Linked DNA regions of Homo sapiens. The protein of the gene in region 1 purifies or fractionates together with the protein of each later gene. This does not show direct contact. Each region holds a gene or a part of one and is shown on either strand. Other genes may lie near its edges.

Region 1 (3,433 bases):
GTTCTGCTCCCTGAAGCAGGAAGAGGCTGAGATTAATGCCAACGAAGTGGGGCCGTGGGCCTGGGAAGACTGTGTGGCTGGCTGAGGGTGGGCAGTAAGCTGGCCACCCCACCCCCGACATGGACATGGCTGTGCTATGGCGGAAGGGGTGGTGTGGGCATGGCCACAGCACTCGAGACAGCCCTCCGAGGAGGAGGGCGAGCCTGGCTGGACCCCCTGTCTGCGGTGCTGTGTCAGGGCAGGAGAGGACAGCCTCTTGCCCCCAGGAGTGTGCAGTGTGGGCAAGAGACAGAGTGATCATGTGTTTGGAACGCAGCTCCAGCCCAGCCAGGGGACCAGAAAAGCCCTCCCGCTTCCAGGGAGGATGTGCATGGCTCTGCCAATGCCTATCTCCCAGGGCCGCTGGCAGGTCCCAGGATGCGCAAGACTGGGCTGCCCAGGCAGGTCCCTGCAGACAGCAGGGCCTGGGCTAGAGGCCAAGGGCTGGGACTGGGAAGGGACGCGACGCCTGATAGCCAGTGAGGAGCCAGGCACACAACTTGGAAATAAACAAGCTTTATTTTCAGTTTCAACAGGTAAGGCGATACCTGCTTCATCGTGTGCTTTTATGTAAATGCCAAATAGCAAAATAACAGCTAGAAAATAAACAGTTTGTCAGTTTGGAGATCAAGTACTTTATCTATCTTGAGTGTTATCTGTCTTGGAATTTAGCCAGGCCTAAAAGTAGCGGAAGTATCAGGAAATGCTATAGAGAGCCAGTCTCCAGCTGCAGGTTGGTGGGCCTGGCACTGACCAGATTGGGGTGGCTCAAAGCACTGAGCGATGCAGGCGCCGTTTCTGCATTGCCTGCAGCCTCTTCTGCCTCTCGGCAAAGTTGTTCTTCGGGGTCTGCTTCAGTGCGGGCAGGATGGCACGCTCCGCCACAGGTGGGCTCAGGCTGGGGCGGGTAGAGGGACTGTCACCGTGAGCATCCCCGGGAGTGGAGTGTGTGGGGAGTGCGGCCTGCATGGCCCTCACGGGGGCACAGAGAGGCCTCAGCGAGCTCTGCTTCTGCGCTGCCACCCTCCCTTCCCCACTCCCTCCCTGGGGCCCAGGCTGCAGGGCTGCCCCACTGTCCCCATGCCTGTGGGACTTACCATTTCTTGGAGAGGCTCTTGGTGGAGACCTTGGGGAAATGCGTGGCTTCTTGGTCCCTGGGTGAAGGAAGAGTCAGCAGTGAGCTGTGGATAGGACCCCAGGGATGGGGCAGGGGTGCACCAGGCACTCACCTGGGAAAGCTAGCTTCCTCCGGGGCTGCCTGGGGCCTCTGGCTCCCTTCCAGGAGGGACTTGAGGTGCCGCAGCTGAAAGGCAGGGGCAGGGGCATGGTGGGGCCTGTGGCGGTGCCAGACTGCCCAGGGCCACCCCCACCACCCAGGGCCTCACCTCTTGGGTCTGCAGGAGGTTGGTATTCCACAGCTCGCGGATGAGCACTTCGCACTGCCTAAGTGTGGTGGGCTTTCGCAGGGGAAGGGGCAGGATCATTGGGGGGTGTGCCCCCGCCCCCATCTGCCTGCCCTGGTGCTGGCTGTTCCCCATACAGGCAGCTCCTGCATTAGAGGCCTCTGCTTTCTCCTTTCTGAAACAGTCATTGCAGCAGCCAGAGGTGACCTGCCCAGGTGCGTCTAACCACCCACCCAGCATACCTCCCCAGGCAGCGCCCAGGCCAATGTGGGGAAGAGGGCCTGGTTCCCCTCTCCCACTGAGCAGGGTGCTCTGGGCACCAGGTGGGGGTCTCTGGGACTGGGGCCTGTCCCTTTCTCCCCTCTGAAGGTGCCCTAAGGGTCAGATGGGCTTCAGTGGGTGACCAGCTAGCTGCCAGGCTGCTCTTGATCGTGACCCCACACCCAGTGGGGCATCTTGCTCCAGGCCTGGTCTTGGGATGTGCAGATGCAGGAGCCTGTCCTGCTGGTTGCGCTGCTGAAAGTGTGCACTCTGTAGCATCTCAGGGCAGTCCCGCAAACTCAGGGATCACCAGAACCTGTTCCTACTCTGACCTGCTGGCCTAGTGCCCTCCAAAGGCAGGCTGTGGCCAGGGGCAGCAAGCCTTCTCTTGGTAAGAATATTACTTTACTTTTCTCTGAGGAAGTGGTTTAGGGGCTGCTACTGGCCCCCCTCGTGGGCTCAGGTCAGCACAGGTACTCTGCAGGACCCCCAGGGGAAGGGAGGAAGACAGCGCCCACCGATGGGTAGAGCGTGGCCGTCATCTGCTATCATGAGCCCAGGAGACAGGCCCCTGGAGCTAGGGGCAGAGCAGTTGGCTGACTGCAGGGCGTGAGCCTAGTAAATGTAGTCATGGGGCCCTTAGGGTGCAGGCAAGACTTACCTGGCCTGCCCTTGCACCCCAGGAACACCCAAGCCTTACCTGGCCTGCCCTTGTACCCCAGGAACTTTGTCCAGCTTGCTGTTGTGAAGTAGGGGCTCCTCTTCCAGGTCCGCCTTCTGGGAGACGTCAGCTTTTGAATCTTGCTTGTTGAAGGAGCCGGGCTGGGGCCTGGCCTTGCCTTGAGAGTTGGCTGCAAGTCAGACCCTACAAGGCCGGTCACTGCAGGCACCAACAGTCACCGCCCAAGTTTTCCAGGAACAGCTGTGTGTACCCAAGAAGCCCCTGTCCCTGCCTCAGTTTCCTCCTCTGTAAAGGGAAGCCTGCCTTGGAGGGTTCTGGGGGGAATCAATGTGGTTCTGAGGGTGAAGCCCATGGGTGGTGCCTGTGAACACTCTAGAACAATCAACATAGTGGAAGCTGGCCCCATCTTGGGTAAAATGAAACTGCATGAGAGGCTTGGGACCCAGCCTGCATGGGTTTCCTCGGCAAGGACAAGGCCCGTCTAGCACCTGGGCCCATCACAGGAATGGTGGGGGTTAGGGCAGGGCTGAGGAAAATGCCCGGCCTCACAGAGTGGGGAAAAGAGGCTCTCTGCTCCCGGCTCACTCTGCAGAAGGTGCCATGAGCCCAGGGCTCCGTGGGCAGTGCCATCCCTCCTGTGTCCTGCCTGCTTGTGGCAGGGACACGGCCAAGCAGGGCTGCTGCTGGGCAGCCAGGGTACATCCTCCCTAGAAGGCCACCCGGGGAGGCCCCTCCTGCCTGCTTGCTGCCCCGCCCTGGGGTGCCTGCTGTGAGGCCTTACTGCCCTGTGACTGGTCCCTGGTCCTGCCCACCCCCCCTTAATCCCCTCCCGGTGGCTTCAGCTTGCAGGGCTCTTTTCAGCTGCACCTTCATCCCCAAATCCTGGAGCTTGGCCCAGCAGAGGGCGCCTGGTCAGCACCCCTAGAGGCCACCCAGGCTGGGGTCCCCGTGGGGCACTCACCCCTGTGAGCACATGGACGCCAGCCTGCTCACCTGAATTAGAGATGGACTTGACAGACTGGAAGCTTGACATGGAGAGGCTGTCTGC
Region 2 (3,654 bases), on another chromosome or scaffold:
CTTGGCTAAATTTTGTGTTTTTAGTAGAGATGGGGTTTCACCATGTTGGGGAATGGTACCAAACATGTAGGCTTTTATCGCTCACCTCCCTCCTACCATTCCCCCCAAGTCCCCAAAGTTCATTATATCATTCTTAGGCCTTTGCCTCCTCATAGTTTCTTAGCTCCCACTTATAAGTAAGACCATATGGTATTTGGTTTTCCATTCCTGAGTTACTTCACTTAGAATAATGGCCTCCAAGTTCATCCAAGTTGCTGCAAAAGCCTTTGTTTCGTTCCATTTTATGGCTGAGTAGTATTCCATGGTGTATGTATACCACATTTTCTTCATCCAGTTGTTGGTTGATGGGCATTTAGGTTGGCTCCATATTTTTGCAGTTGGTAGTGCTGCTATAAACATGTACGTGCAAGTATCTTTTTCATGTAATGACTTATTTTCCTTTGGGTAGGTATCCAGTGGTGGAATTGCTGGATCAAATGGTAGTTCTAATTTTAGTTCTTTTTTTTTTTTGGAGACAGAGTCTCGCTGTGTTGCCCAGGCTGGAGTGCAGTAGTGCGATCTCGGCTCACTGTAACTTCTGCCTCGCAGGTTCCAGTGATTCTCCTGCCTCAGCCTCCCGAGTAGCTGGGACTACAGGCGCACATCACTGCACCCAACTAATTTTTGTATTTTTGTTAGAGATGGGGTTTCACCATGTTGGTCAGGCTGGTTTCAAACTCCTGACCTTGGGATCTGCCTGCCTCGGCCTCCCAAAGTGCTGGGATTACAGGCATGAGCCACCACCCCCAGTCCTTTTTAGTTCTTTAAGGAATCTCCATACTGTTTTCCTTAGTGGTTGTACTAGTTTACATTCCCACCAGCAGTGTAAAAGAGTTCCCTTTTCACCATATTCACGCCAACATCTATTTTTCTTTTTTTATTTTTTAATTATGGCCATTCTTGCAGGAGTAAGGTGGTACCTTATTGTGGTTTTAATTTGCCTATGTATGATAATCAGTGATGAGCATTTTTTCTTATGTGTATTGGCCGCTTGTATATCTTCTTTTTTTTTTTAATTATACTTTAAGTTCTAGGGTACATGTGCACAACGTGCAGGTTTGTTACATACGTATACGTGTGCCATGTTAGTATGCTACACCCATTAACTTGTCATTTACATTAGGTATATCTCCTAATGCTATCCCTTCCCCCTCCCGCTGCCCCACAGCAGGCCCCGGTATGTGATGTTCCCCTTCCTGTGTCCAAGTGTTCTCACTGTTCAGTTCGCACCTATGAGTGAGAACATGCGGTGTTTGGTATTTTGTCCTTGTGATAGTTTACTGAGAATGATGGTCTCCACCTCCATCCATGTCCCTATAAAGGACACGAACTCATCATTTTTTATGGCTGCATAGTATTCCATGGTGTATATGTACCACATTTTCTTAATCCAGTCTATCATTGATGGACATTTGGGTTGGTTCCAAGTCTGCTGGGCGAAGGATATGAACAGACACTTCTCAAAAGAAGACATTTATGCAGCCAACAGACACATGAAAAAGTGCTCATCATCACTGGCCATCAGCAAAATGCAAATCAAAACCACAATGAGATACCGTCTCACACCAGTTAGAATGGTGATCATTAAAAAGTCAGAAAACAACAGATGCTGGAGAGGATGTGGAGAAATAGGAACACTTTTACACTGTTGGTGGGGCTGTAAACTAGTTCAACCATTGTGGAAGATAGTGTGGCGATTCCTCAAGGATCTAGAACTAGAAATACCATTTGACCCAGCCGTCCCATTACTGAGTATATACCCAAAGGATTATAAATCATGCTGCTATAAAGACACATGCACACGTATGTATAGCTTCCTTTGAGAATTGTCTCTTCATGTCCTTTGCCCACTTTGTGCTGGGATTATTTGTTTTTTTTTTCTTGCTGATTTGAGTTGTAGATTCTGGATATTAGTCCTTTGTTGGATGCATAGTTTGCAAATATTTTCTCCCACTCTGTGGGTTGTCTGTTTGCTCTGCTGATTATTTATTTTGCTATGCAGAAGCTTTTTAGTTTAATTAGGTCTCATTCATTTGTTTTTGTTTTTGTTGCATTTGCTTTTGGGTTCTTAGTCATGAATTCTTTACCTAAGCCAATGTCTTGAAGAGTTTTTTTGATGCTATCTTCTAGAATTTTTATGGTTTCTTAGATTTAAGTCTTTGATCCATCTTGAGTTGATTTTTGTATAAGGTGAGAAAGGAGGATTCCTGGCATCCATGAGGAATAGCATTTATTCCTGGATCTAAGTTTTGACTAATTAATGCTTTTAACATTTTAATTAATGTGTTTAACCTCAAATGGATTTATTGAAACCTTAAAATATATGCAAAAATTATATATGCTAAGATTTTTTTCCCCTATTTTTATGTTACGTCCTCTAGATTTGAATTTACGTTAAGTGAATTCCAAAGTTAGGAATTGAAATCAAATTCCTTTTTTTAGGCTTATGTTTTTATTTCCACAGGTCCTGCTCAATCTGGAATTTTGTCAGATCGTGAAGTGGTAAACCTCTTTCTTCATTTTACTGTCAACCCTAAACCCCGAGTTGAATACATTGACCGACCAAGATGCTGTCTCAGGGGAAAGGAATGCTGCATCAATAGATTCCAGCAAGTAGAAAGCCGCTGGGGTTACAGTGGGACGAGTGATCGAATCAGGTATCTGTTATATTGGGGATGCGGGGGTAGAGTGGGGGTAGCAGTTACCATTTGGCCTTTTTTATATATTATGGGAGATAATTAACCAACATTTCATTTTATACTTCATTTAATACACTTTTAAGTTAAGTTAATATAGGAGTCAAGAAGTCACTGAGGCATCCTGCCCTCCTCACTGATTTATGAGTGAGGGTGACTTCTTAAGAAAAAAATAGAGTAAGAAAGGATTGGGTTGGACCTTCTGTTACGTGATTTTTTTGTTTTTCCCCAAGATGGAGTCGCTCTGTCACTCAGGCTGGAGTGCAGTGGTGGGATCTCTCACACTGCAACCTCCGCCTTCTGGGTTCAAGCGATCCTCCCACCTCAGCCTCCTGAGTAACCTGTAAGGCATGCATCACCACGCCCAGCTAATCTTTTTGGATTTTTAGTAGAGACGGGGTTTCACCATGTTGTCCAGGCTGGTCTCGAACTACTGACCTCAAGTGATCCACCTGCTTCAGCCTTCCAAAGTGCTGGGGTTACAGGGGTGAGCCACCACGCCCAGCTGTTACATGATTTTTGTTTGGATCACCACTGCCAGTGGGCTGAGTTCTAGACCTTAATTGATCAAACGTTATTTTTACAGGCTTAGGGCTACAATTAATAAATGTAACCTTACTATGTTTAGTGTGAGTTTTTTCTTTGCATAGATGTTGCAGGGAAAGTATCTCAGTATACATTTATAAAAGCCTTGAGAAAAAAATCAAGAATCTTGAAAAATGCATGCGTATAATCCTGTTGAAGAAATTGTCTTTGCTGTACTGTGTTTCTTTAGGTTGAATGTCAAAATAGAATCAGTGCCGGTTTTCACAAAACATGACTTTTGGATTTTCATTTATTTAATAGCACTTCAGTATAAAACTGGAAATTAACAAGTTTGTTAAAACAGAAAAATCTGGTTGGATGTGGGACTATTATA

What was found. The genes of interacting proteins can lie anywhere in the genome.
Region 2: the proteins of CCDC74A (region 1) and BTBD1 purify together in Homo sapiens (affinity purification with mass spectrometry; one large-scale study listed by BioGRID and IntAct). This does not show direct contact.

The regions. Positions count from the first base shown.
Region 1 is NC_000002.12:131,530,773-131,534,205, reverse strand, and holds the end of CCDC74A (coiled-coil domain-containing protein 74A), read right to left. Parts: coding exon of another isoform or gene 3,430-3,433; coding exon 3,379-3,429; intron 2,626-3,378; coding exon of another isoform or gene 2,600-2,625; exon of another isoform or gene 2,584-2,599; coding exon of another isoform or gene 2,543-2,583; coding exon 2,404-2,542; intron 1,618-2,403; coding exon 1,425-1,617; intron 1,343-1,424; coding exon 1,269-1,342; intron 1,194-1,268; coding exon 1,137-1,193; exon of another isoform or gene 1,132-1,136; intron 938-1,131; coding exon 808-937; 3' UTR 540-807; downstream 1-539.
Region 2 is NC_000015.10:83,029,178-83,032,831, reverse strand, and holds part of BTBD1 (BTB/POZ domain-containing protein 1), read left to right. Parts: intron 1-2,503; coding exon 2,504-2,696; intron 2,697-3,654.